Linked DNA regions of Homo sapiens: regions 1, 2 and 3 are each linked to region 4. The links come from fine-mapping of genetic effects on gene expression. A gene starts in region 4. Each other region holds a variant in brackets. All regions are shown on one strand. Distances are from middle to middle. Region 1 has its middle 23 kb from the start of DUSP22. Region 2 has its middle 21 kb from the start of LINC03066. Region 3 has its middle 43 kb from the start of DUSP22. Region 4 holds the start of DUSP22 (dual specificity phosphatase 22).

Evidence for each region.
Region 1: its variant is fine-mapped to the expression of DUSP22 in whole blood (INTERVAL, PIP 0.95).
Region 2: its variant is fine-mapped to the expression of DUSP22 in whole blood (TOPMed, PIP above 0.99).
Region 3: its variant is fine-mapped to the expression of DUSP22 in whole blood (TOPMed, PIP above 0.99).

Annotation. Positions count from the first base shown.
Region 1 is chr6:265,513-273,404 of GRCh38, reverse strand. No RefSeq gene overlaps it. Among named protein-coding and RNA genes, the nearest start is that of DUSP22, 23 kb to the left of the region's middle. The variant A/G (reference allele first, on the strand shown) is at 4,250.
Region 2 is chr6:222,934-230,825 of GRCh38, reverse strand. No RefSeq gene overlaps it. Among named protein-coding and RNA genes, the nearest start is that of LINC03066, 21 kb to the right of the region's middle. RefSeq lists enhancers at 2,877-2,936, 2,947-3,066, 3,077-3,206, 3,767-3,826, 5,122-5,171 and 1 more. The variant A/G (reference allele first, on the strand shown) is at 3,664.
Region 3 is chr6:245,204-253,095 of GRCh38, reverse strand. No RefSeq gene overlaps it. Among named protein-coding and RNA genes, the nearest start is that of DUSP22, 43 kb to the left of the region's middle. RefSeq lists an enhancer at 903-972. The variant G/A (reference allele first, on the strand shown) is at 3,385.
Region 4 is chr6:288,504-295,959 of GRCh38, reverse strand. DUSP22 (dual specificity phosphatase 22) reads right to left here and starts at 3,473. Exons shown (of 7, transcript NM_001286555.3): 1 at 3,400-3,473. The coding sequence starts at 3,420. RefSeq lists silencers at 2,181-2,240, 2,251-2,310, 2,190-2,346, 3,091-4,110 and enhancers at 2,741-3,000, 3,293-3,793, 3,794-4,294, 4,221-4,510.

The sequences.
Region 1 (7,892 bases), 23 kb after region 4:
AATAAAATAGTCTTGACAATTCAGAATAATGAATCATCCCATTGAAAATACTTGAAATATCCTCTTTAAATGTTCTTCATATTTGTTGAATAGTAAAAATAATTATTATTATGATAATAGAATGTATTAAGCACATATATATTTTACATATATGTTCTAAATATATATATATGTATATATATATCAGTAAAGACAGAAAACAGAAATTCTGGAGTTGAAAAGTACAATAACAAATATAAAATTCACTTTGGTGAAGTTTTGAAACTCTTTAGTTTCAAAAGCAGATTTGAGCAGGCAGAAGAAAGAATCAGCAGACTTGAAGATGGGACAATGGAAATTACTGAGTCAGAGAAACAGAAAAAGACTGAAGAAAAGTGAACAGAGTCCAGGGGACCCATGGGACACTGTCAAGGAGACAAACATATTCATTGTGTCAGTTCAAGAAGAAGAAAAGAGAAAGAAAGTGATTTAAATACATAGTGGCTATAAATGTAAAAAATGCTAAAGGAAGATTTTCAGGTTGAAATGAAAGGATGCTAGAAAGAAACTCAAAGCCATATGACGAAATAAAGATAGCCAATAGAGGATTTACATGGGTAATTATAGAAGTTAATATAATTGTAATTTTGTGTTGTAACTCCCCTTTTATTTTCTATGAGTTAAAAGACAAATACATAGAGAAACAATGATTAGTCATTGTTTTTGATCATGTATAATTTATGACATCAACAATTAAAAGGTACAGACAGAGCTGTAAGCTTGTGTAAGTTCAAATTAGACTGTTATAAATGGAGGTGTTAAATGTAATTCCCATGGAAACCACAAAGAAAATAGCTATAACATATATACCAAAAGAAATGAGAAAGCAATTAAAATGTTTCACTACAAAAACTCAAACAAAGTAAGACAGTAATGTGAAAGATGAAAACAAAAGGCAAAATGGAAAACAAATAGCAAAATGGCAGAAATAAGTTTCTCCTTACTAGTGAATATTTTAAGTATAAATGAATTAAATTATCAAACGAAAAGACAGAGATTGATGAATAAATTTTTAAAAATAATTCAACTATGTGCTGTCTACAAGAGACTCATTTTAGATCCAAAGACACAAAAAGGTTGAAAGTAAAAGGATGACAGAAGATATTTCATGCAAATAGTAACCAAAAGAGAGCTGGGGAAGGGATAGAAATATTATACAAAATAGAGTTAAGTTTAAAAAAAAGTTGAAAAGAGACAAGGAATGATATTAGATAGTAATAAAAGTTTTAATATAGCAAGGTGATATAACAGTCATAAACATTTACACACCTAATAACAGACCCACGAAATACATGAAGCAAAAATGGACAGAAGTGAAGAAAGAAGTGGACTGTTCTACAATGATAGTTGCAGACTTCCATAATCAATAGAACAAGCAGACAGAAAATAAGCAAGGAAATAGAGGACTAGAAGAACACAATAAACCAACTACATCCAACAGACATGTATAAAACGTCCCACCCCACAAAAACAGAATACATATTCTTCTCAAATGCAGATGGGACATTCTCTAGGATCGAACATATGTTATGCTACAAAACTAGTGTCTATACATTTTTAAAAGATTGATATTATTTTTATAAAAGTGTCTTCTCCGAATATAGCAAGTTGAAGTTAGAAATCAATTAACAAAAAGAGAAAACTGAAAAATTCACTATATATGATAATTAAACAACATTTTCTTATGCAATCAATGGATCAAAGAAGATATCACAAGGGAAATTAGAAGTTACTTATAAATAAGTGAAAATTAAAACAATATACCCAAATTTATAGGATGCAGTGAAAACACTGCTAAGAGGGAAATTTAAAGCTGTAAATGCTTACATTAAAAAAGAAGAAAGATCTCAAATCAACAACCTAAATTTATACTTTAAGGAACTTGAAAAAGAAGAACAAACTAACCCCAAAGCTGCAGAAGGAAGGAAATCATAAAGATTAGAGCAGAGATAAATGAAATAGAGAATAGAAAAACAATAGAGAAACTCAGTGAAGCCAAAAGTTGGTTCTTCAAAAAGATCAACAAAATTGAGAAACTTTAGCAAGATTGACTAAGAAAAAAAGAGAGACGACTCAGATTACTAAAATCAGAAATGAAAGTGGAGACATTACTACCAATTTTTCATAAATATGAAGGAATATAAGAGAGTACCATGAATAATTGTACACCAATAAATTAGCTAACCTAGACAAAATGGCCAAAATTCTAGAGACACAAAATCTACCAAGACTGAGTCATAAAGAAATAAAACAATTTCTGGGAGGCCGAGGTGGGCGGATCACCTCAGGTCAGGAGTTCAAGACCAGCCTGGCCAATATGGTGAACCCTTGTCTCTACTAAAAATACAAAAATTAGCCAGGCGTGGTGGCACATGCCTGTAATCCCAGCTACTCAGGAGGCTGAAGCAGGAAAATTGCTTGACCCTGGGAGGCGGAGGTTGCAGTGAGCCGAGATCGTGCCACTGCACTCCAGCCTGAGCAACAGAGCAAGACTCTGTCTCAAAAAAAAAAAAAAAAAGAAAGAAAGAAAACATTTTAGTAGATCTATAACTTGTGAGAAGATTGAATCAATAATAAAAAAGTTAAATAAATAAATAAATAAATAAATAACTTCCAATCAAAGAAAAGCCCAGGACCAGATGGCTTTACTGATACATTCTACCAAATATTAAAAGGAGAAAAAAATACCAATCCTTTCCTGACTCTTCAAAAAATTCAGGAGCAAGAAACACTTCCTAAGTTATTCAGAGGACAGCATTGCTCTGATACCAAAACCAGGGAAGAATGTGACAAAAAACTATAGATGAATATCCATTATAAATATTGAGGTAAAAATCATCAAGAAAATACTACCAAACCAAATTCAGCAGCATATTACAAGGATCATATACAGTGAGCAAATGGACTTTTGTCCTGCAATGCAAAGATGCTTCAACATATGGCAATCAATCATGTAATACACGACATTAACAGAATGAAGGAAATAGAGAATAGAAGTAAGTTCTCTTCTTCTTCATCAATAATTTCCATTGATGCAGAAAAAGCATTTGACAAAATTTAACTCTTAACTCTTTTTCATGGATAAACAACACCTCTAATTACCATCTCAATTCAGACTAGGGCCTCAACAAATACATTTGGGGAGGACACAACACTTAGTCCATAGCATAGCCACAGAACTTAGGCAAGAAAAAAGAAATAAAAAGCATTTAATTTGGAGAGGAATAGGTAAAATCTTTCTGTTTGTAGATGACATGATCTTATATAAAACCTGAAAGATTATACACACACACACACACACACACAACTAATATAAAAATTCAGTAAAGTTGCAGAATGCAAAATCAACCACAAAATTATTTGCTTTTCTGTACACTTACAATGAACAATTCAAAATTAATATTTAAAAAATTCCATTTATAATAGCGCTTAAAAGAATAAAATCTTTAGGAATTAACCAAGGAGGTGAAAGATGTGTACACCAAAAACTAGAAAACTTTGTTGAAAAGAAATTAGGGATAAATAAATGGAAAGACATCCCATATTTACGGATTGTGACTTAATATTGTTAAGATATCAATACTACCCCCAAGTGATAATCCACAGATTGAATGATATCTCTATCAAAATCCTAACATTGTTTTATGTTGACAAATAGAAAACTCCTACAATTCATACAGAACTTAAGGGACCCTGAATAGTCAACGAAAATCTTAAAAAAAGAAATATCAAGTTGGAGCATTCACACTTCGTGATTTCAAAACTTACTACAAAGCTACGGGTAATCAATACAATGTGGTAGTGACATAAAAACCGACATATAGACCCATGGATTATAATAGAAGGCCCAGAAACAAACCCTCACACATATGGATGTATGATTTTTGTCATGGATGCCAAAAGCATTCAAGGGGAAAATAAATATTTTCAACAAATGGTGTTGGGAACCTGAACATCCATATTTAAAAAAAATGAAGTTGCACCCTTACCTAACACCATGTGCAAAAATTAACTCTAAATGAATCAAAGACCTAAACATAAAAGCTGAAACTATAAAATTCAGAAAACATAGGGGAAGGATTTCATGACATTGGATTTGGTAAATATTTCTTAGATATGACACCAAAATCATGGGCAACAAAAGAAAAAAATAGACAAATTGTACTTTATCAAAATTAAAAAATTTTTGCCCAGAAAACACTATAACCAC[A/G]GTTAAAAGGGCAACCCATTTAATGAGAGAAAATATTTGCATATCTAATGGGGTTTAATACCCAGACTATATAAAGAACAATAACAAAAATCACACAACCCAATTTTAAAATGAGCAAAGGACTTGAACAGACATTTCTCCAAAGAAGATATGCAGATGGCTGATAAGCACATAAAAAGATGCTCAACATCACTAATTATTAGAGAATTTCACGTGAAAACCACAAAGAAGCACTACTTCCCACTCATTATGATGGCTATTATAAAAAATATAAAAGCAATAGAAAACAAAAACAAGTGTTGACAAGGATGCAGAGAAATGGAATTCTTGTGCATTGCCGGTGGGAATATAAAATGATGCAGCCGCTGTGAGAAACAGCATGGCAGTTCCTCAAAAAAATTACACATAACATTACCACATGATCCAGAAATTCTACTTCTGCAGAGATACACAAAAGAATTGGAAGCAACGACACAAACAGATATTTTTATAACCATGTTCATAGCAGTATTACTCAAAATTAGTCAAGAATAAGAATAACCCAAAGGCACATTGATGAATAAATGGGGAAACAAAATGTGGCATTCTCTACTCTTTAGAAGCAAGTCATCCAGCAAAGCCCCACATGCATGAGCTGGCAGAGGCGGGGAGGGAGGACTAAGCGCATCTCCTGGGGAGCAAGGTATTACATAAATTATTTGTAATCCTTCCATGTGAAAGATTTGTCTGTTCTTGTCTATTTACATATTTATTTGTTTTCTTTTATTATTATTATACTTTAAGTTTTAGGGTACATGTGCACAATGTGCAGGTTAGTTACATATGTATACATGTGCCATGCTGGTGTGCTGCACTCATTAACTCGTCATTTAGCATTAGGTATATCTCCTAATGCTATCCCTTTCCCCTTCCCCCACCCCACAACAGTCCCCAGAGTGTGATGTTCCCCTTCCTGTGTCCATGTGTTCTCATTGTTCAATTCCCATCTATGAGTGAGAACATGCGGTGTTTGGTTTTTTGTCCTTGCGATAGTTTACTGAGAATGATGATTTCCAATTTCATCCATGTCCCTACAAAGGACATGAACTCATCATTTTTTATGGCTGCATAGTATTCCATGGTGTATATGTGCCACATTTTCTTAATCCAGTCTATCGTTGTTGGACATTTGGGTTGGTTCCAAGTCTTTGCTATTGTGAGTAGTGCCGCAATAAACATACGTGTGCATGTGTCTTTATAGCAGCATGATTTATAGTCCTTTGGGTATATACCCAGTAATGTGATGGCTGGGTCAAATGGTATTTCTAGTTCTAGATCCCTGAGGAATTGTGCATATTTATTTGTTTATGCAGTTTATGTTAGTATGGACTCACGATGTTTATTTTACACTTTGGGTTATAATTCAATAGTATGTTCTCTATTTTCTTGTTCACATGGTTTCAGCTTTGGCTGTCGGGAGCTCTTCCAAGTTGGCTCCTGTGTCACTTGTTCACATCCCAATTGCTTTATTTCTTTTCTTGCTGGCACTGCAAGACACTCCGGGTCTATCTTGTATTTTCCCTGTCAGTCCCATAGTCAGCGATTTCTCCAAGGAACCCTGGCTCCTTTTGTTGAAGAATGATTAGAAATTAAGACCTTGGCACTGGGTATGCCCATTGCCACTGGGGGCTCACTGACTCAAGGCCCTCTCAATGGGCAGACCTAGGATGTAAATTGTATACTAACTCATGGACACACACGGCTATAATTATTCTGTATCTGTCCATCTATATTAAGCTAACCTGAGTTCATACTTATGTCTCCAACTCTAATACGGTACCACCAGTACCACAGAGTTCATTCTAGCCTTCCCAAGGAGTGATATTTTGAAATTTTTTCCCCAGAAATATCAGTTTATGAATGCAGTTTTACATTTAATTCCAGAGAGCCCTAAAACATAGCACCATGGGCAACACCCTCCAGTGGCTCCCCCATTGCATATAGACTCAGTACCAACTCTTTTTTTTTTTTTTTTTGAGACAGGATCTCACTCTGCTGCCCAGGCTGGAGTACAATGACGCAGTCTCCAGGCACTGCAGCCTCTGTCTCCTGGGTTCAAGCAATTCTCCTGCCTCAGCCACCCAAGTAGATGGGATTACAGGCATGTGCCATCATGTGTAGCTAATTTTTTTTGGTATTCTTAGTAGAGACGGGCTTTCACCATGTTGCCCAGGCTGGTCTGGAACTCCTAAGGTCAAGTGATCCATCCACCTGGGCCTCCCAAAGTGCTGGGATTACTGGTGTGAGCCACTGTGCCCAGCTGACTCCATACCAACTCTTGAGTAGTTTGTATTTTCTGGAGTTTATATAAATGGAATAATGTACTTTGTTCACTCTTTTTGTCTGCCTGCTTTTACTCAGCATAGTTATTTTGAGATTTATTCATATTGCTGCATGTATTAATACTTAATTCATTTTTATGGTTGAGCAGTGTGAATACTCCTTTGTATGTGTTTGAATATACTACAATTTATTTATCCATGCAGTTGTTAATGGACATTTAAGTAGTTTCTAATTTATGGTGATTACACATAAAGTTGCCATATATATTTATGTACATATTTTATGCTTTTGTTTCTCTAGGTAAATAACTAGAAGTTCAATGCCTGGATCATGTAGCAGGTTTGTATTTGACTATGTTTAGCTTATATTCCCTCCACCAATTAAGGAGGGTTCCAGCTATTCTACATCCTCACCAATACTTGGCTTGGTCATCATCTGTAATTTGAGATATCTTAATTAGTATCAAGTGATGTCTTATTCCCTAATGACATATAATGTTGCATATCTTTTTCTGTGCTTATTTGCCATTCATATGATTGTCTTTGTTCAAATGTCTGTAAAAACTTACCATTTTTAATGGTTGTTTGCTTTCTTACACTTGGACTTTAAGAGTTCTCTATATATATAGCCGATAAAAGTTATTTATCAGGTATGTGATTTATAAATATTTTCTTCTAGATGGGTAGCACATCATAATAGGAATAGAAAACAGTCAGAGATACAACTCTGTCAGAGATACAATGGTTGATCTTGGGGTGGTATCACAGCAGATTACAATAGGGCTGCATTCCTCATTCATAAAAAAAAAAAAAAGCAAACCTAATGGCACCTAAAAGGTTTTCAAGGCAGTGGCCCACTGAAAGCTGTAAAAAGATACAATCATTGAAATGAAGTGCAGATAGAGTCCAGGTTATAGCAAGCCCATTTCCTAACCTGGAACAGAAGGTTAGAATGGAATAAGCAGGAATATTGACTTGTTGACAAATTATCTACCTGGCTGACCTAGGAATCCTTAGATGTCTTTTCTACTAAGGACAGATTTGGTAACAAAATATGGGACACAGCTGCACTGTTTTACATTAGAAAATTCTCTGATCAGTGGAAGTTGGCTTCAGCAGATACAACACATTGTTTTCACAATTAGATCACACCAAAGCTAATTCAATATACTTGTTACTATATAGTTTGGGATAACTAGAAAGCCACCCAGAAAGGTGAGTAAATATAGATCCCTCCCTTACACTTTGTATCAGCATACATTCTGAAGAAATTAATAATAGGTAAAAAAAAAAATGAAAAAAGAAATAAGAAAAGTACTAAA
Region 2 (7,892 bases), 65 kb after region 4:
GGAGCTGGAATCATGAGGGCTAAAAAAAGATGAGTGATTGAAAAAATAGTCATGATGAAAGAGGCCAGGAATGCCAGAAGTAATAACATTTATTACCAAATTTCACAAAAAGCCTAACCTTTTACATATAAAATACAGAAAACCAAAAGAGAAACAATATACTTAGGAAAGTTTTGCAAGGCAGGTGACCAACCATAGGTGTCTTTGCTTATTGTAAAGAGAGCTTTGTCATATCAGTAAAGAAAAGGGGAAATATTCTATTGAAAAATAGAGACTCTCAAAAGCCAGTTCTTGACCATCAAACATGAGACAGATTTCTCAGTTACACTCCTGATTAAGGAAATGGAAAGCAAAATACTAGTGCTGTATAACTGGCTATTTACATAGCATTGGCAATAAATGAAGCTTAATAAAACCCAGCATTGGTGAGGTTTACCAGTCTCCTGCACCACTGGTGAGAGGCTGAGTTGGACAACAATTTTGGCGGGCAATAGGTAATTCCTGTGAAAATACACTTATCCTTTTTCAGGCAACTCACTCTACAGATATTTGTTTTTAAGTACATATAAAAATAGATACATAGAGATACATAGATATCTTTCTACATATCTCTATCTATCTATCTGTCTGTCTGTCTGTCTGTCTGTCTATCTATCTATCTATCTATCTATCAACATTAATTGCATCATTAACAAGGCCAAAAAAATGAGGGGTGGGTGGGGGGCTGAGCCCTCGTATCAACAAATAGAAGAGACTGGATCGAGGTTTTGCAGCTATTAAATAGAATAAAGTGATATGAACTAAATATGCAGGTGGAAGGTTCTGCAAGTCATGTTATTAAATGAAAAAGCGTGATTCAATATCATATACATACATGCAAACATATAGACATGTGTGCACATATGTATGTATATATTTTTCTGTATTTGTATATATTACATATGTATATTTATAGTTTTATTTGGGCATCACATTGAAGGATTTGCTTTACCTCTGGATACTGGAAATAGGTTAAGGGGACAGGGTTTGAAGTGAATGAAGTTTGTCTGGATTTCCTTCTAAATCTGCACGAAGCACAAAGACTGACGTGTCAGCTTGAGGCTCCAAGGGGACAGAGTTTGAAGTGAATGAAGTTTGTCTGAAGTTCCTTCTAAATCTACACGAAGCACAAGGACTGACATGTCAGCTCGAGGCTCCAAGGGGACAGAGTTTGAAGTGAATGAAGTTTGTCTGAAGTTCCTTCTAAATGTGCACGAAGCACAAGGACTGACGTGTCAGCTCGAGGCTCCAGGGTTTGCTGCTTGGGAAGGTGGGTCCTGCTGGGCTGTGGGAAGTCCACAGGTTTCAGTTCACATGATTCGAAGCACACATTACTATAAGGGTCAGCTCTTATAGGATACCAGTTCGGGGAGTTTCAATTTGACTTAGGAGAGGGTCTAAATCTGAAGAACAAAGCCAAATAACACACACCCAGGTGAGTTTCATTGTCAAAACCATTGAAACTGGCTGAGACCCACACACCCCCACCCACTGCCTGGCTGAGCCCGGCTCCACTTTTAGACATTGCGGGGAGGGGTGCAATCCCGCCACTTAGTCCTGCCCTCCCGCCAGCCCAGGCATAGTGGAAGGAAGGCGGTCAATCTGGGCTTTCTAGAACGATGCTGAGACTCCCTGACTCTGCCGAGCACTTGTGTAATGACTGCACGCGTTGAGGACTGAGAGAAGTTACTCCTTTGACAAAATTGCATTTCCAGGAGTACATTATTTAACTTTGTTCTGGCCCCTGTCAATCTCCAAAGAAAGTACTTCTCTTCATTCTAGAAAGATGAGGAACATTTTTCCCAAGAGCAAATGAAGGCTTAGACAAAGCATGTGGTATAAGTCACTTCTGGGTGGAAAATGGATTGCCTTTGTTTTATATTGACCTATCAAATGATAAAAAAAAAACACACACACACACACACCAAAAAACCAATGTTTTTTTTTTTTTAATATAAAATTTGCTTGCTTCAAAAAGATTGAAAACTGCCAGTCGCGGTGGCTCACGCTTGTAATCCCAGCACTTTGGGAGGCCGAGGAGAGTGGATCACCTGAGGTCAGGAGTTGGAGACCAGCCTGACCAATGTAGTGAAACCCCATCTCTACTCAAAATGCAAAAATTAGCCAGGCGTGGTGGTGGGCGCCTGTAGTCCCAGCTACTCAGGAGGCTGAGACAGGAGAATTGCTTGAACCCAGGAGGCGGAGGTTGCAGTGAGCCAAGATTGTGCCACTGCACTCCAGAGCAAGACCCTGTCTCAAAAAAACAAAAAGTTTTGAAAACTACTAAGCTACTACAGCATATAATGAAGTCATGATAAATGAACATGAATCTGACATAGGGTTTAGTTGTAAAGTACATTCCATCTTAAAAAGTACCTACACGCTAGGACCTGGTGTTCCTGCCTGATTTAAATCTTTCTTTCTTGTTTCCTTTGCTCCTCATTCCCACCATTGCCTGTTTCTTCCTTCCCTCCCTCCCTCCTCGTGCTCTGATGCCTCTCTGTTGTTTTAGAACACATTCTACAACCTCGCAGTGTCAAAGGCTCACCAGCCATTCCCACCACCATCCTGCGGGGCAGCCTGATTATGTTCAGGGAACAATACAGTCGCTCTGAGGAATGGCCCAAACAGAGGCACCCACACACTCCCCTTGCCAGGGGAGAATGCCAGGAGAGACCCTGTCATCCAGTAGGATGTCTGCTGGGGCTGCCCAGAAATATTTCCCCCCCATAAGGGAGAGAGGTGCAAGAGCAGAAAGTCCTTCTCTTGCGAACCTGGAACCCCGTTGTGAAAACACATGGTGCTTTCCCAGGCAGCTGCCGCCTATGTCCATGTTAAACAGTGACTGCTCGGTAGACAGCCCAACTCTCTAGGGATGACAGAACAGAAATAACCTGGTTCTCAGTGGCCTGAGTGGCCGAAATACCTTGGGACCAGCTATCTCTGGACTTAAGTAAACTAGAAATGTCCTTGTGCTTTAAGCCAGGTTTTTGTTACTTGTAAGCAAAATATCACTTTAATCGAATGGAGAAAAGGACTGTATTGAGAAGAAAAGTTACAATTATGTCATGATAATTATGATTACAGAAGCCTGTCGAATGCTGTTTACACCAAAGATCGAATGACAGCCATGCTCCAGGGAGCTGGTGAGAATTTCCCTGAGGAGGACAGCGAGCACCGGCCTTGCAGAAAAAGCCCCACGTTAGGCAACGAGGGATGAGGCCAGTGGATGGCAGGCTTCGCATGAAATGCTAAGGAGCTGTGGTTTTTGTCTCTAGAGAACAGAGGCATGTGCCTGTGTGAGCAAGACCGCTCACACTCACGACACCCACACTCCTCCTGTGTGATGAGGACTCATGCTGGCCTTTGTCTCCATCTTCTGGGAGAGGCTCTCTAAAGCCTTACAATTTCCCAAGTGATGGGAGTGTCTCTGCTATTCATGGTGGGCCCTGATAATTTATGCTAACAGGTCACTCACGGTGGGGGCCTGCGTGGTTTCAGGACGGGTGACGGTCTTACAGGAAAGACCCACGTGTCACCAGAGGATCAGGGCTCTGAGCCTGACCTCTAGGGAAGGGAGGTGGCTGGAGATGAAGTTCAACCATCAGGCCAGTGATTCAATCA[A/G]TCACGAGTATGTCATGAAACCCAAGTGGAAGCTCTGGCCCCAAAGCTTGGTGGAGCTTCCAGGTGGTGAACGCATGGATGTAGTGGGAGGGTGACCGGTCTTGAGCACATGGAAGCTCTGCCTTCCAGGCCCTCCTGGACTGTGTCCTGCTGTCTCTTCCTTTGGCTGGTCCTGAGCTGTGTCCTTTGTAATAACACTGTCATCATACATGTAGCACTTTCCGGAGTTCTGAGAGTCATTCTGGTGAATTATTGACTCTGAAGGGGTCAGGGGAACCCCTGACTTGGTCAGAAGTGCAGGTGGCCTGGGGACCCTGGAGTTTGCAGCTGGCATCTGAAGTGAGAGCATTCTTGCTGGGGATGGTGCCCTTCACCTAAAACTTTTGGCCCCAACTCAGGGCCTCAGTGTCAGAAGTCCCTGCCCTCACCTTCCATGAAAAGTCTGCATGGCCCAGGCCAGAGCTTCGGAGGCCCTGGGTCTCCAGACCCAGGAAATGGAGGGGCTTCGCTTCACCCCCAGTCCACAGACTAACTACTCTGTGAAGAATGCTAACCTTTGGTCACAAGGGAGCTGAGGATTGGGGGTGATGAGATCTGAGAAAATGGGGAGAGCTAAATCATCCTGAGTGCGGCGGCTCATTGATACTGTTGTGGTGCCTTACACAGCCAGACTGCAAATGTTCTGGCCTAAATCCACTCTTTCAGAGTAAATAGTAACACAGGCAAATAGAATCATAGCTACCATCGACTGAACTATAATGGGAAAGATGCCAAGTGAGATTTATTTTTGTTTTGCTTTTTACCTAGTGTTCCTAATGTCCTTTTCTACCAGTGACGCGCAGCTTGGTAAAGGCCTGAGTCTGGCATCTCGCTGTGAAGCGGCCCCAGGTGTCCCCAGCTCTGTCTGTTGGCTCTGCCCCACAAGCTCGCGCCCGAAGCCACAGAGACACAGGGTGGGTGGGGGTGGAAAAGTGACGCCCAGGAATCGCTGGGGCTTTGCAATGTGGATGGTAGGAGGGTGGGTTGCGCCATGTGCTCCCCCCGCCTCCCTCACCAGGTTGGTCTGTTGCGAGGCACTTTCCCCAGTTGGCTCTGTCCAGGCCCCAGGCCGCCAGCATGGTGGGGAGCCCCTCTCTCGGCCTTGCCGTGGCTGCAGTGTGGACACACGTGCGTATTCAATCACTCTCTGCTGCCCCTAGACTCTGATAAGAAGCTGGGCGTTCAGGGTGAAGGCGTGGAATGATGAGCAGCACACAGACGGCATTTTGCTGAGCATCAGCAGGCGCTCCTCCGTCGGTTGCTTTTGCATAATAAATGTGGGGAAGATTTTTCAACCCCGTTTTCCTATGAGAAAGCTGAGCTCAAAGGCTGAGCTGCTTTGCTGAGGTCACTCAGAAACTCAGAAACTCACAAAGCAGGGGTGAGACCTCTGCTCGACAGCAAAGGCAGGCAGCGTCCCTCATCCCTGCACCACGAGGGCGTCACAGCCCCTTCCCGGGTGGCCACAGCCACAGGGCACCCTGCGCCCTCTCCGGGCCTCGCCTTCCTCTTCTGAAACAGGACGGTGATCTCATCCCCCTCACAGGCTGATGCAGAGACCTAAGGAGCACACTGGCTGTACACGGAGGAAAGCACCTCGGTTTCCTGAAGCAGTGTGGCATTCGAGTCTGATTTCCAGCAACTCCACTGCCCCCGCAGCCAGACTTTGCATGAGCAGAGTTCGCAAACCTTCTAGAATCTGGCGAGGAACAGAGGAAATCAGCTAAAGGGCGTAACAGGAAGTGGGGCCTGGACCGGGAACCTGGTTCCTCCGCTCTTTCCCTATAGGTACAGAAGGAACAGGCCCAGGAATGAGTAAGAATGTTTTTCTCTACAAATAACTCACACCCAAGCCTCAAGCAGGGTTAGGGAGTGAGGCATTGTGTCATCACCTACCACAGGAAGCCCAGAGCCAGGGCAGACTCCAGACACGGCACGCAGGGTTGTGACTCTACACACCTGGCGCCTGGGGCACTGGTGTCTTCCAGGCAGCTCTGCCAGGTGTCACATCTGGACAAGACAGAGAGGTACTATCTTCCCCTTAGGAGTGATGAACTCCTTTCCAGAAGCTTCCTGCAGGCTTCTCCTCATGCCTCACGTCTAGAATAGAGTGATCTGCATGTTCCAAGAACAGTCACTGGTTGGAGAGTTGGTATCACCGTGACTGGGTGAGCCTGATGGCTCTAAACTCTGGCTGTACATCAGAAGCACACACTGAGCTTCTGAAAAGGAGAGGCCTGGGCCCCACTTCCAGAGATTCAGTTCAATGGATCTCCTGTAGTACCTGAGCATCAGAACTTCGTAGCCCCCGAAGGTGCATGCTACGGCCAGAAAGAAACTCAGGGAAAAATGGATGTTGCAGAGACGTCGCCACAAATGAAACCCACAGCGACAGGAGAAAGCGGCTCGCGTCCCGTTGAAGAAGATGCTTCCCTGGATTACTGTGCAGAGTTGAAGCTTTACCTTTCACCTGGAGAACGCGTGGTTCTGTGACCAAAACAGTGGCAGCTCCTCCACCAGCCCCTGCTGCTCCCATCCCTTCCAGGGAAGAAACTTTTGTTTCTGTGATGCCAGCGCAGGCATTCAGAGCAAAGCCACTTCCAGGAAATTCTAAGAATGAGGTGCGGGCACCACTGGGCTGGCGCATGAGAGTCATGTGCCTCAGACTCCACGCCCCCTGCTGACCGTGCCCACAGGCTCCCAGGTTATCTGTGGCGGAGGTCAGGGTCTGCTGGGCAGGGTCAGGGATGTCTGGTTGGGCTGAAGCAGATGCAGGGGTCCTGCGGTCACCACTGCCTCCGATGAAGCTCTGAATGGTCTTCTCTGTTCTTCCATACGGTCATGTGCCACACAACAACATTTCCAACCACAGACAGCGTATACTATGGTTGTCCTGTAAGAGTATAAGGGAGCTGAAAAATTCCTATCATGTGATGACATTGTAGCCACCTCAACGTCTTAGCACAATTATATATATATACACACACACATATATATACTTTATATGTAGAGAGAGAGAGTGTGGCCTACGTGTGCAGTGTTTATAAAGTCTGCAGTAGTCATAGTGATGTCCTAGGTCTTCACATTCACTCCCGACTCACCCACTGACTCACAAGAGCAGCTGCCAGTCCTGCAAGCTCCACTCATGGTAAGTGCCTTGCACAGGTACTGTTGTTCATCTTTCGTATTGTTCTTTCACGGCACCTTTTCTCTGTTTAGATACACACACGCCACTGTGTCATAATTGCCGACAGCACTCAGCGCAGTGACATGCAGGTCTCAGCCTGGCACGACAGGCTGTCTCATATCGCCAGGTGTAAAGCAGCTCATAGCACGCGGGTGTGTGGAAGTTCACTCTGCGATGCTCACACAACAGCAAATTGCCTGAGGACCCATTTCTCAGAAGGTATCCTTGTCCTTAAGCAACACATGACTGACATTTGTAAAAGGGGCAAGAGACAGCTTGTGCTTCTCAGAAAAGGTGCCCATTTTCAACTGGTTTAGGAAATTTAGAAAGAGGGAGGAGGAGTATTAAAGTGGCTAAGAGTGTTTCTTTCCAGTTGGTTGATTCTGCACCTCACACACCTAAGGAGTCTGGGAAACATCCTGGGTAGCAGTGGTGGAGAGTGGTCGTAATTTACATTGAAATGGGGATCACCACTGCATATACAGATGGCCTTGCTAGGTGCTGAGGAAGCTCTGATGCCCCCGCGAGGATCAAACATGAGTCGTGGAGACAGGACATGGTGACATGTAGGAGAACACAGTTGAATGCCAGGTAAGCCCCACGTGGGCCTCATGGGTTCAGAGGCTTTTTTCAGAATTACTTCCAGTAGAACGGTTGCCCGTCACAGGGAGCATATCCAAGAGGGCGTGTGTGTGAAGCTGGAAAAGTGGCTTGTACTGGGAATGGGGTGTCTCATATCTCTATAGAGAGACCGCAGGGAGCTGAGGACTGAAGGAGAGGTTAGAGCAGCTCAGGCTCAAGCCCTCTTCCCCAGAATCACCAGGAACTTGCCAGGGAGGCTTTTGTTGCTGTTGTTGCAAAATCCAATTGCAATTACAACAATAAGTGAGGAATTAAACTACAAGTATGAATAGCATGGGCAGCTTAATTCTTAATAAGAAAGCCTAAGGTGCTTTCAACTAAACCACTTTCTGAAGTTTTTTTTTTACCAAAAATAAATTAT
Region 3 (7,892 bases), 43 kb after region 4:
CATGTCAGCTGTAATTTATAGAATAATAGAAACAATAATGCCTGGCTTACCATTCTAGAATAAGACACTCTACGCTGACCTTGGGTTTCCTGTGTATGGCTTACAAGATCAGACTGACATGCTAAAATTTGTTTTCGTTTCAGTTATGAAATAATTAAGGACAGGCTTTTTCAGGTCCTTCAGTGTTGTTTAAATGAATGAGAAGGTATGTTTCTTTGACTTTCTGAAACAGGGTTTAAGAAGCATGCAAAACTTAGAAGGAAAACAAGAACAAACTGACTAAGGAAGCATTTTGAATGAGTTCGGGTGCAGTGAAATCCTTCGGTGGGCAACTATTAGATCATTTCTGTGCAATCAAATCTTCTAGACTGAATAAAGATAAGCCAGCTTCATCTTAGAGAAAAAGAAACTTTTTGATATATGAGATAATCACAATGCAGAGGTAGATGAGGGAGAGTTTAAGGGGACGGTTTGCAGAAAAGGCTGTCGAATCCCTAAAAATAACAAGGCACTGCCACAGTCATTGGAAAACTCAAATCCTGAGGTGAGGTAATACTAGGAAAATGCTAAGTTCACTAAAATAGTTTTTTCCGCTGCAGTTTAAACACAAGTTTAGAGAGTATTTTTGTTGCTGATGGTGGTTGGTTTTGTTTTTTAAAGTATATTAAAGAAAAAATAATTCATCTCCTTCTAATAACAACAAAATTGAGACCTCTGTTGCAAGGATGAAATGATGGATTATCTCCTCTCTTTATCAAATCATCACTCTGGAATTAATATAAGAATCATAATCTTATTTACCTAGCTCTGTGTGAAAGTGGTCATCTATCAATATATGTGACATTTCATTCAGTAAGAAAGGAAAGAAACTTGCAACCAACTTTCAGGGAAGAAATAACATTTCCTCTGAACAATTCTAAGGAGGAAGGCAAAGTAGAGTTTCATGTTCTCAATTCTGCTGAAGATATGAATCATCACACCTTTGCTAGCAGTTACATGTCATAAGGGCTTTGAGATGCCAAGTGAGTCAAGCCCATTTGTGACATTTGATAGGCCTACTTTTTATCCATGTGGCACTACAGAATGGATTCAAATCTCACTAGAACAATCTTTCTCTTTCTCTCGCTCAGTCTTTTTCTTCTGTGTTTTTCTAGAGTCGAGAAGTTTTAAAGAGGAGGGGCTAGGAGACCAAACATATCAAAAGAAGCCATGGGGGAGCAAAATCCAAAGGAATCTGTCGCATGTAAAGAGATAATATTTTTGCTTTCTTGTTTTTCCTATAGTTGCTGTCAAGGAGATGAGCCCAAGTAATAAGGAGGATAGGTAGATGACAGGGATGGGGAGAAACTTCAAATTAACATTTTTATTTTAACATGTGTATACCAGACACAAACTATTGAAGCCGAGAGAGGGGTAAATAAGAAATACGAATAGACATGTAGCAGGTAAGGAGATTGAATTGGTAATTAAAAACTTCCTACCAAAAAGCTCAGACTCACATGGCTTCATTGGTGAATTCTATCAAATGCAGAATTAGCAACAATCTCTCATAAACTTTTTTTTTTTTCCTTAGACGGAGTTTCGCTCTTGTTGCCCAGGCTGGAGTGCAGTGGTGTGATCTCGGCTCACTGCAACCTCCACCTCCCGGGTTCAAGCAATTCTCCTGCCTCAGCCTCCTGAGTAGCTGGGATTACAGGCATGTGCCACCACACCTGGCTAATTTTGTATTTTTAGTAGAGATGGGGTTTCTCCATGTTGGTCAGGCTGGTCTCGAACTCTCAACCTCAAGCGATCCGCCTGCCTCAGCCTCCCAAAGTGCTGGGATTACAAGCATGAGCCACCACGCCCGGACCCTCTCATAAACTCTTAAAAAGAGAAGAGGAGGAAACACTTTTCACCTTATTCTATGTCGCCAGTATTACCCTGATACCAAAACCAGTCAAAGATATCATAAGAAAAGTACAAACCAATATCCCTTATACATATCAATACAAACATCCTCAACAAAACACAAACTGAATCCAATGAGATTCATCCAAAGAAGATAAGGATGCTTTAACTTTGAAAAATCAGTCAATGTAATGCACTGTATTAATAGCATGACAACAAAACCACATAGTCATCTGAAGAGATGGGAAAAAAAGCATTTTACAAAATTTAACAATCTTTCATAATACAAACACACAAAAACTAAGAATAGAAGGGAACTTCCTCCACCTGATCAAGGGAATCTACAAACAAACCACACCTAACATTACACATGTGGTAAAAGACAGAATGTTTTTGCCCTAAGGAAGTCCACTCTCACCACTTCTATTCAACATTGCAATGGAGGATCAAGCCAGGACAATTAGACAAGAAAGAAAAGTGAAAGACATCAGATGGGAAAGAAAGAAGTAAAACTATCTCTGTTTGTAGATGACATGATCTAATATTAAAAATTCTAAGCATGCCACAAAATAAACTATTAGGCATATAAAATTAGTTCATTAAGGTTGCTGGGTAGCAGATCAATATACAAAAGTCGGTTGGTTCTATACACTAGCAATGAACAATTTGAAAATAAAAGTAAGAAAATAGTTCCATTTATAATAGTATCAAAAAGAATAAAATATTTTAAGGATAGATTTTTCCAAAAAATTCAAGACTTCTACACTGAAAACTATAGTACAAAACATCATTGGAAGAATTACAGAGGATCTAAATTAATGGAAGACATCTCATGAACATAGATTGGAATACTCAATACTTATTGTTAAGACGGCAGTACTCCCCAAATTGATCTACAGATTCAATATAATCCCTATCATTATCCCAGCTGGCTTTTTTTTTTCGGCAGAAACTGACAAGCTTATTATACAATTCATACGGAAAGGCAAGGCACCAAGAATAACCAGAACAATCTTGAAAAATTAAAACAAAGTTGAAAGACTCACACGTCCTGATTTTAAAGCTTACTACAAAGTGACAGTAAGCAAGACAGTGTGGTACTAGCCGGACATGTAGATCAATGGAAGAGAATTTAGAGTCCAGAAATAAATCCTTATGTTTGTGGCCAATCAATTTTGACAAATAGAGCTACCCTAGAATCCAGCAATCCCACTGCTGGGTATATACCCAAAAGAAAGAAAATCACTATACTGAAGAGATGTCTGCATGCCCATGTTTATTGCAGCACTATTCACAATAGCCAAGATCTGGAAGCAACCTAAGTATCCATCAATAGATGAATGGATAAAGGATATGTGGTACATATACACAATAAAGTACTATTCAGCCATAGAAAAGAATTAGATGCTGTAATATGCATGGGACTGGAGGTCATCATGTTAAGTGAGACAAGCCAGGCACTGACTGACAAACTTTGCATGTTCTCACTCACTT[G/A]TGAAAGCTAAAAATTAAAACAGTTGAATTCATGGAGATACAGAGGGGAAGAATGGTTCCCAGAAGGTAGTAAGGGCTGGGGTGGGGAGGACAGAAGGATGGTTAAAGTGTACACAAATATAGTTAGAATGGGTGGGTGCGGTGGCTCATGCCTGTAATCCCAGCACTTTTGGAGGCCGAGGCAGGTGGATCACTTGAGGTCAGGAGTTCGAAACCAGCCTGACCAATATGCTGAAACCCTGTCTCTTCTAAAAATACAAAAATAAGCCGGGCATGGTGGCGTGCATCTGTAGTCCCAGCTACTTGGGAGGCTGAGGCAAGAGAATCACTTGAACCCAGGAGGCGGAGGTTGCAGTGAGCTAAGATCATGCCACTGCACTCCAGCCTGGGTGACAGAGCGAGACTCCATCTACAAAAAAAAAAAAAAAGAAATATATATATTTCTTTTCTATTTATACATATGTATATATATGAATTAGAATATATGTATATATTCTAATATATATATTAGAATGAATAAGATCTAGTATTTGATATCACAACAGGGTGACTACAGTCAACAATAATTTATTGTACATTTTAAAATACCTAACAGATTATAATTGGATTGTTTGTAACACAAAGCTATGACAAATGCTTTAGGAGATGGATACCCCGTTTACCCTGATGTGATTGTTATACATTATATGCCTGTATCAAAATGTTTCATGTACTGCATAAATACATACACCTACTATGTACCCACAAAATTAAAAATTAAAATATTTTTAAAAATTAGGAAATTATTAGACTCATAGATATAATTTTAAATTAGAAATTAGAAAATCAAGCACGGGTGGTTTTATGAGTAGGTCCAGTATTACCCTCCTCTCTCTAGATCTTTTTAACAAATGGTGCTGGGAAAACTGAATATCAACATGCAAAAGAATAAAGTTGGACTCCTTTCTTACATACACAAAAATTAAATCCATATGAGTCATAAACCTTAATGTGAGAGCTAAAACTATACACTCTTAGAAGAAGTACTAAAGGTAAATTTTAATATCCTTGAGTTAGGTAAAGTCTTCCTAGATAAAACAACAAAGCAAAAGTGGCAAATGAAAAAAAAAGATTGATTGGACTTGATCAAAATTAAAAACTTTTGTTCTGCAAAAGACACCATCAGGTTAAAAAAAAAAACCCCACAAAATGGGAAAAATATTTGCAAATCAAATATATTCAGAATAGAAGGGTAACTTGCTTCTAGAATAAGTACAGAACATCTACAACTCAATAATAAAAAGAAAAATAAGCTATTTTTTAAAAAAATGCACAAAGGATCTGAACAGACATTTCTCTAAGAAAGATATATAAATGGCCAACAAGAATATGAAAAGATGCCCAAAAATTATCCACCATTAGGGAAGTGAAAATCAAAACCACAATGAGATATCACTTCACACCCATGAGGATGGCTATAATTAGACAAATAATAGTAAGTATTGGCCAGGCGCTGTGGCTCCCGCCTGTAATCCTAGCACTTTGGGAGGCCAAGGCAGGCAGATTACGAGGTCAGGAGTTCGAGACCAGCCTGACCAACATGGTGAAACCTCATCTCCACTAAAATACAAAAATTAGCCGGGCGTGGTGGTGCTTGCCTGTAATCCCAGCTACTCAGGAGGCTGAAGCAGGAGAATCGCTTGAACCCGGGAGGCGGAGTTTGCAGTGAGCTGAGATCACGCCATTGCACTCCAAATAGAGTGAGACTCCATCTCAAAAAAAATAGTAAGTATTGGCAAGGACACGAAAAATTGGAACCCTCTTAGTTTACCATGGGAATGTAAAATGGTGCAGCCACTTTGGAAAACAGTGTGTCAGTTACCCACAATATTAAACAGAGTTCTTATATTACCTAAAAATTCTACTCCTGGGTGTATACCCCAGAAATCAAAACATATGTCTACGTAACATTTGTACATAAATGTTCATAGTAGCAGCATTTTTTGTAATAGCCAAAGAGTAGAAACAACCCAAATGTCTATCAACTGATGAGTGACTAAACAGAATGTGGTCTATCCATACAAGAGACTATTAGCCACAAAAGCAAATGAAGTTCTTATCCATGGCACGGCGCTAATGACCCCCAAAGACCTTGAAAATGTGAAGTGAAAGAAGCCAGGCGCAAAAGACCACATGCTGTATCAGACCATGGATGCGAAATGTCTGAAAAAGGGAAATCCACAGAGCCAGAAACTAAATTAGTGATTGCCAGGGGCTGGGAGGAAGAGAAAATAGGGAGTGACTGCTCATAGGTGTGGGATATATTTTTTTTGAAGGTGATAAAAATGTTCTAAATTACGTAGTCATGATGGTTACACAACTCTTCAAAAGTATTAAAAAACGCTAAATTTCACACTTTAAAAGAGTGATTTTATGGTATGAATTATACCTCTATAAAGCTATTATGCAAAAAAGTGTGTATTATTTCTCTTTTGTCTCTCCCTCACCCTGTTCCATATATATATATATGTAATTTTTTTTCTGTATTTCTCTATGTCTCCACAACAGTCACTCCATTAAGAAGCATGTTTTACTTACTACTAATGATTAGAGAAAATTCAAGTTCTTCTGTACACAATAGTAAACTTCACCAACTACAACCCAAGCCAAGACATGGTAATTCCTTCTCTTCCCTTTCTCTGGAGACAGATTTTACAGGCTGACATATTGACATATTTCTTTCTTTTTTCTTTTTTTTTTTTTTTTTGTTGAGACGGAGTCTCTCTCTGTCACCCAGGCTGGAGTGCAGTGGTGTGATCTCGGTTCACTGCAACCTCCACCTTCCAGGTTCAAGGGATTCTTCTGCCTCAGCCTCCTGAGTAACTGGGACTACAGGCGCCCACCACCACACCCCGCTAATTTTTGTATTTTTAGTAGAAATGGGGTTTCACCATATTGACCAGACAGGCTGACATATTTCTAAGGGCTGGTGCCTGTGCTGGAAGGTCACATACATTGCAGAGGAGAAGGTGAGAACGTGAAGGTGGCTCAACACAAGTCTTTCCCATAATTAGGAAACCGAGCATGAGTGGCTCCACGAGTGCGTCTAGTGTCACCCTCCTCTGGTGCGTGTGAGTCATTAGCATCATGTCGGCACCTTCACCATGATGGACATGGGAGAGTGTAGGTTTGTGAGTCAGGCGGATGTGTTCTGCAAAATGTGGAGAACCAAACTCAGAATCGCTGGATTCCTGCCAAATGGAATCTCAGCCACATTTTGTGTTTGCTGCTCTCTTAGTTTGGTAGAAAGAGGCCAATCAGGAAAAAAAGGTTATATCAGGAAATATTTTTCTTCAAAACTGAAAGAAGCAAAACAAAAGGAAAATAGATAATTTTAAGCTTCAACTCAACCCAATCTCCTATCCATTCTGGATCCTCAGGAAAAAACAGATTGAGAACCTGTAAAATCCTTCAGAATCCAAGAAAAATTTACTAAAGTAATGTCCACTAAAGGGATGAGTACGTCTTAGAGCAAGTGAGACTGTAGGTTTCCTAATTCCTGGCCTCATAAGTTTCCCACAATATAGCACAGACTCCTCTCCTCATTTCACATAAACTTCCAGAAATTAGAGTTTAAAGGAACAGAAACACGTACACCAAGAAGCATGATTTTCTGCTTACACCTAAATTAGCCCAGAACTTTCACTCATGATGTAGTTTTACTCTGTATGAATGCGTGCGTTGTGTATCTCTACATACACATCCATATGAGTGTTATAATTGCATACATATCTATTAGGTCAAACCATGGGGATTTGCTCATATTGAACACTTTAACCTGTAGAACAGCAATTTCATATGGTTCAACCTAACATGCCTACACAACTGTAAAATTTATATAAGGGGAGTAGATACATTTGATGACTTCAAACCATTACCAAGACTGGGTTTCCAGACTGCTCATAATGAAGGTAATCACTTTATGACATCTATCTTATTTGATGTCCTTTCTTTTTTGCAGAGAATCTGGGCCCATCATGAGCCTGTGATTTGCAGACCTTGTTTCAGGGTTTGCTTCATGTCAGAAGGTGATGCGGCTTTATGAAGGAGGGAAGAGTGAACTCAAGAGTAGTGATGAAATGTGTTAAAGGGTGATTGGCAGACTCTTATGCAAATATAAAATGAACACATGTCAAAGATGTTATTTCACTCATTAATTAAATGTTACAGTGGGTTCAATAGAGAATTCTGAGAACCATACATTTATATACAAGGAATAAGGAATTATAAAATGAATTTACAAATAGCCATAAAACTGCTCTTCCATAGGGCAATGGCCAATTGCATCCCAATGGGGACACAATTAATTTGCATTTATATGAACAAGAGCAATTCACATTATTATCCATTTTCTACAACTTATAGAGTTTTAAAAGAATAGTGAGGATAACGTCAGTGGGTGAGATGTACAGATATAGATGTACAGTTGATCCTCGAGTAATGCAAGGGTCAGGGTGCAGATCCCTGTG
Region 4 (7,456 bases):
TTACTTATGCTACCTAACCTCTCCAAATCTCCATTCCCCAATCTGGGCAAATATAAGGTCGTTTGACCTCATAGGGCTACCGTGAGGCTGAGATTTTATAAAGTGTTAAAAAAAATGGTTCACAACTGTGTTGTTGTTGGGTTTTTTTTTTTTTTTTTTTGAAACAGGGTCTCGCTCTGTCGCTCAGGCTGGAGTGCGGTGGCACAATCACGACTCGCTCCAGCCTAGACTTCCCGGGCTGAGGTGATTCTCCCACCTCAGCCTCCCAAGTAGCTGGGACTACAGGCACAAGCCACCACACACTCGGCTGATTGCTTTGTTTTTGTGGGTTTTTTTTTTGTATTTTTGGTAGAAACAGGGTTTTGCCATGTTGCCCAGGCTGGTTCTAAACTCCTGGACTCAAGCAGTCCACCTGCCTCAATCTCCCAAAGTGCTGTGATTACAGGCACGAGCCACCACGCCCAGTCCTGTCTTTATTTCCTCATCTTTAATTTTCTAGAATATAAAAGCCTTTTTCCCCTCCATCTTCTGTATAATCTGCTGCGTACACCTAACGGAAACGGGCACAATATTCCGCCGTACAGGAGCCCGGAACGGACCGACAAGAAGAGCCACCACAGGGATGTGAATGATAAAAACTGCTGTCCCAAAGCACTCAGAATGCAGCGTGCACTGTTTAGACCAGAAATGCTCTTTTGCCAAAAATGACCAATGTGTACGAGATTGGAAAGAAATCTTGTCCCAGTAACCTCAGGGCACACACATTCCAAGTTATGTTAGTTCCAAAGACATTGCACATATTTATAAATGTTCTTAGAAAAGGATTTCTAGGGGTAGCACCTTCCGCTGATTCTGCAAATCAACCATTCTTCTTTTTTTACAGATGAAGCCTCGTTCCAAGTCACACAGTAATATATGGAAAAGTTCTAGTTAAGGTTCTTAAGTTACTGGCCTCCTGCGATCTACTTTGCCACTAATGAACCTTGTGATTTGGGGTAGTTCCTCCTGATCTCACGTTAAACATGTTTACTGCAGCAGGATTCCTTGCCTGGGCTGAATGCCCCTTCTAGGTCACTTTCATCCCATCTTCTGCTTTCCCCACTTTTCTGAAATTGCCTATTTTATCCTCTGGAGCCTCTACTCCTCCCTACCTTGTGTTTGTTCTCTCTCTCACCCCCACACACATACACACCCTGTGTTGTGCAACACAGCAGCCATTAGCCACAGTGACTATCGAGTACTCCAAATGTGGCTAGTCCAAAATGAGATGTGATTTAGGCATAAAATACACACTAGACTTTGAAGGTTAAGTGATCTGGGGGTCCCGAGATTTTTCCTTTCACAAAGACATAGTAAAAAACATGGAATCTTCCATGAATAACTTTATATATTGGTTACATGTTGAAACAATAGTTTTAATATATTGTTAAATAAAATATATTATTAAAATTAATTTCACCGGTTTATTTTTTAATGTGGCTACCGGAACATTTTAAGTTACATATATAGCTCGCATCATATTAGTGCTGGACAATGCTGACCTGTACTGAAGGTTCTGTGAAGAATCTTTGGGTCATTTACCACTGTACTCCCTTTGCCCCCTCCCCACCCACTAGCACAACACCTGGCTCATAGTATGTACATAATCAATAAGTGTTGAAGCAGGGAAGTCTCTAAATCTCTCTATACATGTATTTCTTCATTGATACACTGTGAGTCTCTATTCACAAGATAATAAAAGTCAAGAAATTTATTACCCATTTTGAAAGGTAAAAAGTATATGAATATTACTGCTTTTGTTGAAAAGCATGAAAATAACGTTGATCCCTTAGGCAACCATCTGTATTCCTAAATATATTTTTTGAATTGTATTACACAAATACTATAAATTAAATGCTGAAAACGGTGGAGAGTGAACAGCTCAAGTGGGAAAACTAGAAACAGCCAAAGGAAAGCTGAGATACCACCACCAATGGGAAGGCAAACGGAGCCCACAGACTTATGATGACCATCTTTATTGTTCTGTTTTAATTTAAAAAGCAGAAGGCTCGTGGTGCTGATGGATTCCAGTGCTCATCGGAATATAATACAAGTATTTATCCAAGAGAGAGACAGTCTGTTTCCAAACTTGATCACTCGCCAAAAAAAAAAAAAAAAAAAAAGTGAATACAATTCTCTTTACCAAAATACCCCAGTATTGATATGCAGGTCCCAAACACACAATAGTTCTTTCACAAACTGGGTAACCAGGACACAATAAACACGACATGCGCACGTGAAAAGTTAGCTAGGTTTTCCCTGCCCTACCGTGAATCCGCATTTGCAACACTCCAGCCCCAACACCCAAACCACTGCTGACCCAGTGCTGAGGGACATGAAAAAAAACACAGCCACATTGCCATCCCCACCCAGTGTGGAAGCTGACGGCATGTAGAGATGTGGGTGGGTGGAGCGCAATGAAAAAGTGAAGCAGAAAGACGACTCATCTAATCCAGGACCATTCAAAGACCCGTAAAAAGGTACTTGTCTTTGTTGCGGGCTTTGTAAAGTCTTGTCAATCCTTCCTCGAAACCAGCCAAGTACCAAGTAACAAAATCCTTAACCCTGTGGTTCACATGAATACACCCCGGCAACTCTCAGCTGCCAGAGCTGGAATCTGGCAACTTCCCTGGACGGGAAAGGCTAGCCCACCGCCCGGGAAGTGAGGTGCGGGCAACAAAAGAACACAGGGTGGGGCCCAGAAACGGACGGGACAAATGGAGCAACACAGATTTTCCAGAAGGCCTCATCAGCGCAAGCAGCCAGCAACAGGTTGCCCTTGTTGCAGAAGTCACATAACCTAATCAACTCTGAATCTTTTCTCTCCTCCCCACTATCTAGAAACAGCTCAGGACTTAGGACTCTGTTAACTTCTCTGTCCACAAGAAAAACTTCTCTGTGCTCACAGGCACACACACAGAATCTGAGGAGAAAGAGGAAATTACAGAGGACACCCGTTTACTAATGATGTGGGGGGGGCGGTGGTGGCTTCAAGAGCGTAGTTTGGGAGCGAAGAGGAGGGCAAAAAAGAAGCCACATCCATTCGGAGCTCAGCTGACCTCTCGGCAGAACAAGTGTCAACGCTTTCAAAGGGCGCGGCTTGTTTCAGCCACGAAAACGCACCGGCTGGCAAGGCAGGCGGCTGGGGGCTGCCTACCCGGAAGCCGGGTGGGGTGGGGGCGGGAACACCTCCGAACCCCGACTCCGCGGTCGCCGCCCAGGCGCGCCGCCCCTCCCTCCGCGCCCGTCCCCACCGCGGGAAAGGGCACCCCGGGCTCGAGTCGTCGGGCAGCCGACGCCGGCGAGACGGCAGGGCGTCGGAGCGGAGGCAAACCCAGCGCGAACGAGGGAAGACGTTACCTTGTTCATCCCATTCCCCATGGTGGCTGAAGGCGAACGCTAGCGCCCCGGCCGTGTGGTCGCAGGCGCACTATGGCATGTTACAGGGAGGAGGAGCGGCGGGGCGGGCGGGGAGGAGGCGCGCGGGAGGGACTGAGTGCTCGCAGTGTCAACAAGTCAGCGGCAGGGACCGGCCGGGCAACCCAGGGCGCTCCAGAGACCCGGCGTGGAGGGCAGGGCTTTCTGTGCGGCGGCCTAGAACTTCCCGGCGGGAGCCGGGCAGGGGCACCGGAGCCTATGCCGGGAAATGGTCCCGCCTTGCCGGTCCCCGCCCCCGTGCGCACCGGGCAGGCCCAGCGTCCCTCCTCGCTCCGCCCGCCCGCACCCTGGGATTCGTAGTCGGGTTCCTGGCTGCCGCGCCCCACTCCGCCCTCGCGGACCCCGGCTCGCGGCCGCCGGGCGTGGGAGGCACTAGGCTCGGGCTCCCAGGCGGCCGGCCCCGGAGGCCAGAGCGCGTGCGCGGCCCGAGCCGCCCCGCCGGGACACCCGAGGCTGCGCGGCGGGGCCTGGCGGACGCGCAGGCGCTGCCCTGACCGGGCGGCTGCGCTCGTCTCGGAGCCCGCTCCCCGGCCGGGGGTCTCCAGATCCCCCTTTGGCCTTTTCCCCTGGGGCGACTCCGGGGGCCAGTTACCAGCAGTCGCTACCCAGCCTTGGCTGCCTCCGTGAATCAGGTGCTAATCAGAGGCCTGGTCTCTGGGGGCTCCCCTGCCTGGGTTTTCTGAGTGCGGCAGATTTAGGCTGGGGGATTTCCTGCGGCCCTGCCCCATGCACCAAGACCGAGAAGCCTCGCCTGGTGGGGAGAGGTGGGCTACGTGACTCACCCCGGGGAGGCCCGACCTCCCTACCCTGGGGGAGCAGATGGCTGGATCTCTGACCTCAGACCTCACGGCCTTAGATGATGTGTGTCCCTTAATGTCTGCATTGTGGTTCTGTCTGGAATGGATCAATTTCTAAACTGTAGCAGAATTGTTTTGGGTGTTCTATCAACGTTATTAAACTCTGAAGTTTCTCTCCAGCGACAGAATCCTTGAGCCAGTGGTTTTTCTTCTTAATTTATGTATCCTCAACAATGTCCTGAACATAGTAGGTGCTTAATAAATATTTGCTGAATGAGTACATGCGTCAATCTGACGTGCCCTGGCTCACCCCTGCTGACTTCATTTTATCTTCTTGCTAAGCGAGTTACACACATGCTGGTCTCCTGTCTGTTCCTTGAGCCTGTCAGGCTTGCTGGGCTGTGCTCTCTATCCAGACACCTGGATCCCCAGCTCTCTGCATACCTGCCTGTTATCGCTGAGGTATCAGCCCAAATGCCATCTCTCCTAAGAGGCTTTTCCTAACCACCCAATTCCAGGTTGGTCCTCCAGTCACTATCATATTACTCCGTATTATTGATCGGAAATACATGTATTTGCTTTCTTTTTATCTGTCTCACTAGCCAGCAACTTTCAGATTAAAAAAAAAAAAAAAGTTGTCTTATTCAGTAATACAGCCATGTGGCCTGGGACAAAATCTAGCACAAAATAGTGATTTTTAAAATATTTGTCAAATAAATTAATAATTTCTTGTGGCCGAGAAAACGGGTGAGGTTCTGAGGAATGTGAACGTTTGGAAAGAGCTTGTAGACTCCATCTGTCGCCATTTCTGTACTTGTACCCCATATCTTCTGGGCAACAAATGGTATCAAAACCCCCCGTGTAGAAAGCCCTCAATCAATATGCGCTTGCATGTTTTCTCTAGGTAGAATGGGACCCAGACCCGGAGTGCCCTTTCTGCCTCTTGTTTTGGGAGAGTGTTCCTTCTTCACTGCCTTCACTTCCTCTTCTCCCGCCTGCTTCTCAGTCACCTGGACAGCCTGCCCTTTCCCCTCTGCCACACACTGCCATTAAGTAACTGTTTTTACCACCTTCCTGCTTAGAGACAACACAGAATCGTTAGTGGACTGCCTGGGGAATCCCAGTAATCAGCCTCTATTTCTAATTCTTAAGGAGGTCTTGAGCAAGATGATCAACTTTTCTGAGCTAGCTTTTTTTTTCTCTTTAAAACAAGAGCATTAAACTGTGAATTTTTGAAGCTTCTATCCAGCAACCAATGAATTACTTCTGCAGCCTTCTGCCCTCCTTGGGCCATTCATCCAACAGTCAGATGAACGTTTAAGAACACAACCAGTTCATAAACTGGTACTTGACCATGAATGACAAATTCATACTGATTTTTTTCTTCTGTCATCCACTTGCAATATTTCTCTCTTATTCATACTCTTCTTGTAGATATATTTCTCCAGCTTGGACCATCTGCTTTTCCCCCTAAACTCAGAACCTGCCATGGCTTCCTCCTTACCGTCAAAATCAGCATTCAGTATGGCCTAAAAGGTCCACATGCCCAGAGTTCCTATCAAAATCTCAAATTTTTCTTTTGGGTTAAATAGGAAAAGAGGAGACTATTAACACCAGAAGTCAGAAGAGTAAGATTTAAAAAAAAAAAAATTATTGGTTTTGGCTGGGCGTGGTGGCTCAAGCCTGTAATCCCAGCACTTTGGGAGGCCGAGGCGGGCCGATCACCTAAGGTCAGGAGTTCTCGACCAGCCTGGCCAACATGGCAAAATCCCGTCTCTACTGAAAATACAAACATTAGCCGGGCGTGGTGGCGTGTGCCTGTAATCCCAGCTACCCGGGAGGCTGAGGCAGGAGAATCGCTGGAACCCAGGAGGCAGAGGCTGCAGTGAGCCAAGATTGTGCCACTGCACTTCTGCCTGGGCAACAGAGCAAGACTCCGTCTCAAAAAAAAAAAAATTATTGATTCTGTGGGGTTGGGGGGTTTCCCACAAGAGACTTGCTGTACTCTCCTCCACCCTAACCCTGAACACCTCTCTTTATTACAATAATAATTCCCAGTTGTTCATGTCTTGCAGTTCTATGACTTTTACTCTCTAGCTCTTGATTATGGAAAGAAAGGAAGAAGGGAAACACTTCAACAAAGCTGGCGTATTTCACATCCATAGTAGAATCTCTATTCATTTGTGCTTTATCTCACTCATAAAAATTTTAAGGCATCACAAGCCTGGTGGATTTTCACACTATGTAAGATTTTTACTTCCACTTTTCTTCTTGTTATTTTCTTCCTCTCAGTTCTGCCAACATCACAAATTTTGGCAACAACTCCGAAAGAAGTCAAGCCTTCATGTGTGCACAATAAGGAATGGTCTACAGAGTGTGTAGGATAGCTGAGTCCATACTTACACATGGTTAAGGATAACTGGTTAATAGTGTATTTAGTGAGCAGTAACCTTAAACTTTAAGGTGGCGGTGTTTAAAAGCCCGCAAGCAGAAGCTCAACCATTAGAGTTAGCCAAATCATTATAGGTGTTAGTGATAATTTCAGAGCATCAAGATTAACCTCTATCCAACAGAGAAGTAATTATGTAATCTTCACTGGCCTCTTGAACATATTGCAGTCCAGGGTTTCTCAACCTCGGCAAAACTGACATTTGAGGCTGGATACATTTTTGCTCTAGAAGGCTGTCCTGTGCACTGCAGAATGTTCAGAAGCATCTCTGACTTGTGCTCATTACATTTCAGTAGCACCCTCTCAGTCATGACAATCAGAAATGTCTCCAACCCCCTCTCCTCAATAACCAGCTAAATCTACACTAATAGATCATGTTAGTTCTCTGCAGAATTCTTAAGCCACAATTGTTCATTATTAACAAATTGAGAACAAGAAGTTAAAATGAAGATCTAATCTAGCCAAAGCCTGACTAAAAGTAAAAGAAAGTGAGAATCTAATGAATTGTGGAAAGAAGAAAAAAGGTGGAACCTGGAACTACGGAAGCAAAAGCACAAAACATTTTCTCTGTTTCTCCAGCATTGTCCAGAGAGAGGCTGCCCAGTTGAATACCTGAGTTCTCAAGGCCATGCAGAACAGCCTGACCATGAGGATGGGCCCCTGTGGTATACGACCTCAACTCTTCAAAGGTCACAATTTCCAGCCTTCCAAGCAGTCTTCTAATTATGAACGT